Regions from separate parts of the Homo sapiens genome. Here region 1 is linked to region 2. The links come from fine-mapping of genetic effects on gene expression. Tissue or cell type: whole blood. Region 2 holds a variant in brackets; the other region holds the start of a gene. All regions are shown on one strand. Distances are between the middles of the regions.

Region 1 (5,146 bases), 42 kb after region 2:
TAACATAGAAACTTGTCTCAGGGGGCCCCCAAAAAGTGGCTGAAAGCTTCAAAAGACGGTTCTCAAAGCGCAAAACCTTCAAAAAACTGGCAAGGATGGAGCTGACACAGCAGAGAATGAAAAGCTTCCAGGTTTTCACTAATGATAAGAGAGATTTCCCAGTTTTTCAGAGGACTTTGCTCAGAGAAACTATAGGGGTACCGGATGTGGGAAGTGGTGTGGTCCTTTTGGGGTCCAGCGGGCCTGGATCTACATCCCTGCTTGGCTCTTGACTGTGACCTTAGGCGTGGGACCTCACTTTGCTGAGCCCTGGTTTCCTCATCTGTCAAATGGGCTTAAGGCCCTCTGCCTGATATGGGCGTGATAGGAGAGGCCAGAAGAGGGCGCGTGGACGATGATGGCCGGGCCTCGGTGGCAGTATCTATTCTCGTTTTTGCCAGCTCACAGACCTGGTGGGAGGTGGCATGGAGAATTCCAGACTTCCTCCAGTTGCCATGTTGGTGAAAACTGTCTTCATGCCAAAGAGGCAAACTCACTTACACGCTAACAGGCTCAAACAAGAAACTAAGATTTGGCAGCATTTGAAAACAGTTAACAAAAAATAAAAAAAGGAAGGAAAAAAAAAAGACAATTTAGCTCAGCTCTGGAATCAAGGGAAACTTCACTCTATATAAAGATGCCACAGGTCCAGGAAATAGCTTCCCACCGCCTGGCTAAGGGCTGAATAACTGGCTGCCCAGCCAATAACAATACAGACTCACACAGCACACCCTTTCTTGTGGAGAGCGCGGAGTGGGTTCCCGGCTATCTCCTTTCAGAATTTCACAGGCTATTCACGGAAGGCATGCAGATCTACTTTGTAAGAATTAGTTCTTAAAAAAAAAAGATCTGAAGACGACTTCCAGGGAGGCCAAGGAGCTTAATTTAGCCAGCCAACGCCCTTTTCTATTCATTGTTCTATACTTCTTTGTTAGGATTTTTTCCCTCCCTCTTACTCTTTTTCCCTTCCTGGTTAACTTCTCTGCAGCCAGGCTCCGCCACTGCCCACTTCTCACCGCCAGAGACACTATAGCCCCCTTCCCTGCTGTAATGAGGCCCTCCCCAAGGCCTCATGTGGGCCCATCACCCCACATCCCCTTTATCTCCACCTAGAACCTGCGAGGTGGTCCCAGGGCCTCCTGAATCTGCAGACGTGTCCCCTAGGTTGCTGCGGAAGCCACTTTCCACCTGCAGGTCACCGTCAGCCCCAGGCACCCCTGCTGGAGGGAGGGAAGCCCGAATGCAGCTCTATGTTCCAGGACCTGCAACCTCTGAGCCTCAGCCTTCCTATCTGCAAAACGACGCTACTGTCCCATTTTCTCAAGTCCTTGCCAGCTCCAAACAAGATTCCCATGTTCCAGAGGGAGATGCCAGGAGAAAACTTTCGTACATTTTAAAACAGAAGTTACTGGAGAGAGGGGGCAGGGGATGTTTTTAACCCTTTAAAGGCGTAGCCACTCAAATGATCCATTCCCAGAGATCTCCTCCATCGCCCAGGCCGGCTCTTGCCAAAGAACGGAGTCAAATTCGGCGAACCCTAGAGGGGCTACCTGTGGCTGGGGACTGCGGGTCTGCGCGCCTCTGGACAAGGAGGGGCAAGGCGGGCGGCCTGAGAACAGGCACTTCTGTCTCTCCCGCTTTCTGTCTCAGACCCCTCACCGGCTGGAGCCAGACTTTTCCACAGATGAGCAGGACGGGAGTTGGGGGGACACGGAGAAGACAGAAAGGGGTAGAGGAGCCGCAGGGAGGCGAGTAGGGGGGCGAGGCGGGAGGAAGGGATGGAGGGGGAGAACGAGGCAAAAGCGGGGAGGGGAGGGGAGGGAGGGAGGAGGAGTCGGGAGGGACCCGGGCAGCGCCGCCGCAGAGCCGAGGGGAGAGCAGGGGAGGAGGGGACGGGAAGCGCTGGAGGCAGAAGTTTTCCAAGCCGGGGGCCCTCGGTCGCCCCCGACGGGGCGCGGGCTCAAGGGGGCGTGGGGGCCGCGCCGCACTCACATAATGCTTGTTGGGCACCCGCCGCTTCTGCACGTCTAGCACCTTCACCTCCACGATGCTGCGCCGCGGCGGCATGGCCGCTCCTCCGCCCGCAGCGGGCCGAGCGCGGGTGCGGGTGGCGCGGGGTGCAGGGAGCGCTGGGGGCGCGCCGCCGCGGGCAGGGAACCTGGAGCTGAGCGCAATCGCAGCCGGGGCCGAGCACGAGCCGCCGCCGCCACCGCCGCCGCCCTTCGCTCGGCGCGCACTCCAGCCGGGCCCAGCCGCCGCCGCCCGCCCCCGGCCCGCCCCCCGCACCGCCCCCCGCACCGCCCCCCGCACCGCCCCCCGCGCCGCCGGCCCGCCCCCCTTAAAGGGCCCGGCCCCGACCCCCGCCCACCGCGCGCGAACCCCGCCGGCCACGTCCGGCCCCCGCCCGGCCTTTGTCCCGGTGCTGAGCCGCCGCGCCGGGGGAGGGGACTGGACTGACCCCGTCGCCCGTTCACTGATTGACGTATCGATTCATTCCAGCACTCTCGCTCCGGCAGCCGCCATCCACCGCCAGTTTGGAGAGCCGGACACCCGGGTTCGAATCCCGGCTTTGCCGCTTTTCCACTCTGTGCCCTCGGCAAGTTGCTTAACCTCTCTGGGTTGGGTCTCTTCGTCTATAATATGAGCCTAGTAGTACAAGCACCATGTTTGTCTTTTTGTGTCTGGCTTATTTCACTCGGCATAATGTCCTCAAGGCTCATCCATGTTGTAGCACGTGTCAGTAGTACCGCCTGCCTGCCGGTGCTGCGCCCGGGATTAAGTGCATGTGAAGCCATTCCGCAGTGCAGTCCATGGTATGAGTGCTGGCGTTCCTAAAGCCACCCCAAGCCCTGGTGATTCAGGAGGAGCAAGAGACCCGTGACCAGGTTCCCCCAGCCTCAGTCTGGGACATGGGGAGTGAGGGAGAGAAAAACTGCAACAAATGCGCATACGTGCAATGTAATTGCCATGGAAGCAACAAAAGGGGATAAAAGGGTGGTGACTATGTGTGAGGGGCAGCTGGGTGCTTGTTAGCAAGGCCATCGATTTCCAGTTGCGGAGCACTTAACTGCTCGCTGGGCCCCGTGGCCCCTGCTTTTCACAAATGCTGTCTTTGCATCCTCAGGCAGACTCTAGGAGGAAAAGGTGTTTTTACAGAGGACGGCCTCCAGACATTTGGACATTTCCAATGAGGCCTGAGGACCCTCTGACTTGGGAACTGTACTTCAGAAGAATGTGCCTTACAGGAATTACATCAGTGAAGGTCCAGAGTCAGGGAGCCGGTGGATGGAGCCCGTCACTGCCTGGCTCTAGGTGGATCTCACACGTTGAAGCTGCCGTGGCTGGGGCAGCTCCTCGTTTCTTCATCTAGTGCCTCCTAGCACTGGCTGGGCACTGAGTCACTTTCAGGAGATGTTGGCTGAATGAATGGATAAATGAATATATAATGCATGGATGGGAGGTTTAGGCTCCTGGCCAGTGTTTTCACAGCCAGTAAGTGGGGGCTCTTTTCAACAAACCGTACGACTCTTCTCCATGCCACGACAGAGCTACTTCCCACCCCGGTCCAGGATCAGCCTTTGGAAAAGGGTGGGCTTATCCAGGGTAGGACGGCTCTCAGCCTCGGCCAGGCCACGTGGATGATTTGGGCTGATTCACTTTGGATCCGCCCCTCCATTTGCTCCTCTGACTTCCTTGCCAGACTTTACCATCCTGCTCCAGCCCCAGAGGCTGGCCTGTGTGGATTTCACTGACAGCTCTCTGTCCTGGTCTTCCTGTTTGGCTTGGCCAGTGGAAGGGCCTGGCAGGAGATTGAGGGCAAGAGGAGAGAGGGAGGTCTGGGTATTTAATCCCTAAGCCCCTCCTCCCCGATTGTTTTTACCAAAGGTGCCCTTTCTCACATGGTCTCTCTCAGGGTTCCTGAAGCCACTTTTCTGCTCAGGACAGTGACAGTCTTGCTGTTGCAAGCCCTGGGTACTACGCCATCCTCGGTGCTTCCTTAGCCCCGCCCACACCCGTATACATTGACCCTTTACTAAACTGTCTTCATGGACCCAGCTTGAGGGTGGCATCTGTTCGGTGCCAGGACCCTCACTCATGTAATTCCTGTAAGGCACATTCTTCTGAAGTACAGTCCCAAGCCAGAGGGTCCTGAGGCCTCATTGGAAATGTCCAAAGAAGTGAAGGTCTGCTTTTCCGTCCCTGCCACATCGTGCATTGCCTTATTAGGAGCCAAGCCTTCCTAAGAAGGCAGAAGCTAGAGGCCCTCTCTGAATCAGCCAGCTTCCTGGGTTTTTCCGGAGAGGCAGAGAGACCTGCCCCCAGCCACACCATGGGTGGCAGAGGTGGGTCCTGCTGGCTGTGTCCGTCTCCTCTGTCTGGGGAAGACAAAGGTCCCCCCACAACCACCAGTAGCAGAAGATGCTATCCCTGCATCTTTACGTATCTTTCCTTTGTTTTACTTTTTTATTGTAGTAAAAAATACATAACATAAAATTTAACATTTCAACCATGTTTAAAGCATACAGTTGAGTGGCATTAAGTACACTCACATTGTTGTGCAACTGTCACCACCATCCCTCTCCAGAACTTTCTCATCTTCCTAAACTGGAGCTCTGTCCCTATTAAACACTGAGTCCCCCCCCACTGCCCCCCAACCTCCTCCAGGCCTTGGCAACCATTGTTCTACTTTCCATCTCTATGAGTTTGACTATGCTAGGTACTTCATATGAGTGGAAACACACAATGTTTGTCTTTTTGTGTCTGGCTTATTTCACTCGGCATAATGTCCTCAAAGCTCATCCATGTTGTAGCATGTGTCAGAATTTCCTTTTTATGGCTGAATAATATTCCATTATATGTATATAGCACTTTTTCTTTATCCATTCATCTGTCAACAGTCACTTGGGTTGTTTTCATCTTTTGGCTATTCTGAATAATGCTGCTGTGAACATTGGTATAAAAATATCTGTTCAAGTCCCTGGTTTCAATTCTTTTGTGCATATACCAAGAAATGGAATTGCTGGATCATGTGATACTTCTATGTTTAATTTTTTTTTGAGGAGCCCCTAAACTGTCTTCCACAGGGGCTGTGGCATTTCGCATTCCC
Region 2 (5,146 bases):
TTTGCTAAGTAACTCTGAGGAATAATATTCACATTACTAATACTAAATAATAATTAGTAATCACAACTAACACGTATATAACAGTTCACAGTGAACATGTCCTCTCATATACGATTTCATGTGACCTTGACAGTAACTCTGTGACATAAATGTTACATTCCCCTTGTCACAGATGAGGTAACTGAGAAGCAGAGAGGGCAGTGAACTTGCCTGAAGTCACACAGCTAAGTGGTGTGTCCAGCCAGTCCATGCATCTTTGTCTAAATTCCATTCTTTTTGCCTAAGACCACTCTTTGAGGCAGCTTCAGAGTGTCACGTGAACACAAAAGTCAGCCTGAGATGAGGTAAGTTTAATATTCTGTGCACATGTGAACAGCATGCTTTCTTTTCGAAAGCAGAGCCATTAATCAGTCTCAGCTGTGGAGTATGTTAGAGATTTATAGGTTTTTGCCTAACACTATCTACTTTTTCCCTTCTCAATTTTATTTGTTAAGACAATGAAACACCATTAAAGGGAACTTTTTTTTTTTTAAAGAATGCACCAGTAATCTGTCCACCCTAACATGACTATTTCCAATCTCCGGGTTCCTTTGGAGTCCCTGCCTGAATGTACATGTCAGCCAATGAGTCCCTGCCACTGCTGTGTTTTTCAGTCCTCAGAGGGGTCTCTACTGCCTGGTCTTAAGAAGCTGCTCTCTTGCCCTTTGTCCTGACTTGATTTTACCCAGATCAGCATGGCCCAAGGAGCTGAAAGGCCTCCCTTTGTTTTATTTGTTGGAGGTGGCAGATCTGGGTTTAAATACTGCATAGTCTAACCACAGACATGACTGCTGGGGACCCAACAGCCCTGGGGTTCAATCCTGATGCTTCCTCATGCCAGCTGTGTGTCTTTGGCCAGACACTTCATCCCTGAGCCTGTTTGGCCGTCTGCAGGATGAGGGACGCAGCCTGCTCCGCGGCGGGGCTGGGTAAATGAGTGCTATGTGGAAACTCTGGGGAGCACACCAGATGCTCAGCAAGAAATCCCCGCTCCTTACACTCTGCCCATATTGAATATGTTATTTTGAAAGTTATTTGGGGATAACTTTTAGTAGTCTGTAAGGCTGTGTGGTTTTTTTTTTTTAATCGTGTTAAATATACACAAGAGAAGATTTACCATTTCAACCACACTTGGGTGTACAGTTCAGTGGCATTCAGCACATTCACAATGTTGTGTAAACATCACCACCATCCATCTCTGGAACCTCTTCATCATCCAAAACTGAAACTGTGACTCCCCCCTCTCCCTCCCCCTGGGCCCTGGCAACCACTACTCTGCTTTCTGCCTCTATGAATCTGACTGCTGTAGCTACCTCCAATAAGTGGATGACACAGTACTTGCCCTTTTGGGACTGGCATATTTCACTTAGCATAAGGTCCTCAAGCTCCATCCATTTTATAGCATGTGGCAGAATTTCCTTCTTTTTTAAGGCTGAATAATATTTGATTGTGAGGCTGTGTTTTAAGGTTGGCAAAAAACCCCTCAGGACTGCCCGGGTGGCCCCGTGGCTGTAGCAGGGCTGTCTGCTGGCACTTTCTGCCATCATGGAGGTGTTCTACATCTTGCTGTCCAATCCAGTGGCCACTAGCCTCCTGGTAGCTATTGAGCAGGTGAAATGCTGCTCCTGCAACTCAGGAGCTCAATTTAAAAATTTTCTTTAATTGACTTGAATTTACATTTAAATACCCTCATGTGACGAGCAGCTGCCATCCCGGACAGTGCAGGGCTGGACTATCACAATATCCTCCTATTTAAACCACATCCAATTTTATTTCGTTTTCTTCATCACTGTGTCCAATGTCAACGGCCATCTGTGAGTTTGCTAGTTGCAAAGACTAGGACTCAGGATAAGATGCTGGGGGATTAGAGCCCTGCAAGCTTTCCTTGCCGAGCTGGTCTTGGTGTGTCCAGGTTTACGGCCACCAATTGCATCTATGCAGAGAACTGTAACACTAGGCATCCAAAGGCCTTGAAGTAGGTTCTCCAAGGGACCAGGCCCAGGCTGTCTGCAGCAGCAGGAGCAGAGGCATGCTCCTCAAAGCCTAACCCATGTCATCCTTGGTAATGAGAAAACCCACTACCCGCGCTCCCCCCAGATAACAAAAGAAGTGGCGCTCAGGGTGAGGAGGACTGGAAACTGAAGAGGAAGATGAGTCATTTGGGGAGTAGGAAGGGAGAAGGAGTCACATCAAGTTGCCACATCACAGGCTTCCAAGAAGAAAGAGAGAACACTCCATCAGCAGTTTTCAAGACATCAGCTTGCGGTAGAGGGAATGCGAGACACGCTGTCCAAAGAACACGCCATGGAAGCTGGCCACC[A/G]CACGTGGTTTGCGTTAGCAGCAGCCATTGAGGCTGGACTTGGGAGGGGTTTACCCCCTCAATATCACAAAACCCCCAAGTCCCAGCGGAGCCGGAGCAGGAAGTGGAGAAAGGCCTGGGGCCATCATGCGCAGCTGCAGGCTGGCAGAAAGCCACAAGGTCCTGGGGCAGGGCTTTCAGGGCCCTGAACACAACGGTGTCCCTGGGCCTAGTCTACCATCTGTGGTTTGTTGTCTTTGAGGATTCTGGCCCCTCCACGAGCTGGTCTAAATATCAATGTGTCTGGTGTCCTGATGGACGTGCTGCACGGAGGCTGCCACCACCTCCGGTCTGTCCGCTTCTCTCCATACTTACTGCTCCCCCTAAGTCCAGGCCTGTATTTTCTCAGTTCAACCCCCTTACTACTGTTGGCCCTCTCTTCTGCCCCACTACCTCCTCACTGGTACACGGTAAGCACCTGTTAGATATTTGTGCAAAGAACAAATGAGTAAATGAATGAATGAATGAATGAAAAAACAAATGAGAAAAAGTGGTTAACTGGTTTGGTCAGCCACTCTCTGGGAAAGGAAAAATTACATACCAGGTGGCAGCAACAGGGCCTGGACCTGAGTTTAGCTGCAACTGCCCAAGATAATCATGCCTCTTTCTATTTTAGAAATAAAGAATTGCTAACTGTGTGGAAAAAGGCAACTACGGTATTTTCCCAGTGACACACCTTCCATATGGTAATAGCTTTTAGTGGGAAGGGAAAACTATTCCATTTAAGTATGCACAACACGTTGGAGGCATACTCCAATTCCAGAAGATAATGTCTGGGAGAAAAAGTGTGTCTGAGGATGGAGTAAAGGCAGTATTTGGATAAATATGGTTGGTGGAGTCTTGGGCCAGATGTTGGCTGGGATCTTGCTGGGAAGGCTTCCCGGCCAGGCAATGCCTGCCTAGGGAGTGAAAACTCTTCAGTTCTGCCATCCCCTAGACCTGTCCTCAGAAAAGCTGGAAGAAAACCCTCCCTTCCCTTTGGCCTCTGCAGTGGAGCATGGGGGCTTATGGGCAGATAGTCTTAAAAAGTACACTTGGGGCTGTTAAACTCCCAAGAGGGCCGAGGTGGAAGGACCAGGGTCTTAGAAGGAGACAGGTCAAGGCCGGGCGCAGTGGCTCACGCCTGTAATCCCAGCACTTTGGGAGGCTGAGGCGGGTGGATTGCTTGAGGCCAGGAGTTCAATACTGGCCTGACCAACACGGCAAAACCCCATCTCTACTAAAAATACAAAAATTAGCCGGGCATGGTAGCGCGTGCCTGTAATCCCAGCTACTCCGGAGGCTGAGGTGGGGGAATCGTTTGAACCCGGGAAGCGGAGGTGGCCGTGAGCCGAGATCGCGCCACTGCACTCCAGAGCGAGACTCCATCTTAAAAAAAAAAAAAAAAAAAAAAAAAAAGAAGGGGATGGGTCAGTCCTAGCTCAATGGAAACTGGAAACAAGCGGTTTTTGCTGCATGACTTGGGACAGTCTCTGGAGAGACAAAGGCATAGATGGAGATGCAGCCTCCACCTGTGATTTGAGGCGTCCAAGAACTGCTCGAGCCGTAAGCCCCTGAGCCTAGCAGCAACGCTCTGGCACAGCGTGCGGAGCAGGAGAGGAGCCAGAAAAGCTTCTCTGGATCTCTGCAGCATGAACTTCCCCGTAGGGAGTGTTCCTTCTTACAGATGAGGCTGGCATTTCTCCCGAGGGCTCCTTCACGGGCAGAGTGACTCAGCTGGTTCTGTGCCCCCCTGCCAATGTTGGAATTCTGGAAGATGCCCAGCTAAGACTCCTGCTCCATTGCACCTCTGCACCTTTGCACATGAGGTGTCCTCTGCATGCAATGCCCTCCCCCATTCGGTGGAGGGGCCACTCCTTATTCATTGTCAAGACCCTGCTCAGATGTCACCTCCTCCAGCAAGTGAGCCCTGTCTGAGCTCCCTGGCTAGGAGGGAGGTCCCTCTGTGAACACCTGGATTTCTCTCTATCTGAAAGAACATGTGCCTATTCCCACTACACTGGAAGCTTATGGAAAGCAGAGATCCATCTGGGTCCCTTGTGGCAGCTCGAGGTCTAGGTTAGCAAATGTTTAACTGCGCCTTCTGTGAGGGAAGCCCTGGCTCCAGTGATGACCATGACCCTTGGCCTGGGGGACACAATGAACCAGTGGGAACTCAGAAGACAAAGGTTGCACGGTACAGTGTAGAGGGGCTCATGTTTTGGTCAGAACTGCCCTCTGTGGATAGACTCTGCCTGTATCTTAGAGGGAGGAGCCAAATGGGCCTTAAAAAGGGGCAGCCATAGGCAGGACTCTATGTGGGTAAATCTATCTTTCAATAGGCAGATTGAAAGGCAATCCCGGGGCCCAAGGAGGCAGGGAGGTTAGGAGTGCAAGTTTCAGATCCAGCCACACCTGGGCTTGAATCCCAGCCATGCTGCTTTCTGGGCATGTGACTCTGTCTTTCTGAGCTTCAGTTTCCCCATCTGTGAAATGGATACAATACTGACCTCATGCCTGTGAGGACAGAATGAGATGGCATATAAGATGGGCATCTGGCACATTCCAGTTAGTGACTGCCGATATTGTTACTATGTGGCTCAACCCAGCCACATTTCTGCTAGGCACTACCCTCAGCTCTCTGGGCACTCCAGTCATCCCCAGTGCTCTGCCTGGATGCCAATTTCCTTTGCCACACTGATGGACTCCCCAGAGTAGTCCCAAGCCAGGGCAGAAAGGGAGAATCAGAGAGGCTGGGTGACCATCCCA

What was found. PIP is the estimated chance that this variant, and not a neighbour inherited with it, causes the effect.
Region 1: SH3PXD2B starts here. The variant in region 2 is fine-mapped to the expression of SH3PXD2B in whole blood (TOPMed, PIP 0.99).

Annotation. Positions count from the first base shown.
Region 1 is chr5:172,452,247-172,457,392 of GRCh38, forward strand. It overlaps SH3PXD2B (SH3 and PX domains 2B), which reads right to left and starts at 2,279. Exons shown (of 13, transcript NM_001017995.3): 1 at 2,032-2,279. The coding sequence starts at 2,106. RefSeq lists an enhancer at 1,245-1,766.
Region 2 is chr5:172,410,688-172,415,833 of GRCh38, forward strand. The region is part of intron 2 of SH3PXD2B (SH3 and PX domains 2B); the gene reads right to left. Among named protein-coding and RNA genes, the nearest start is that of SH3PXD2B, 41 kb to the right of the region's middle. RefSeq lists an enhancer at 2,014-2,515. The variant A/G (reference allele first, on the strand shown) is at 2,360.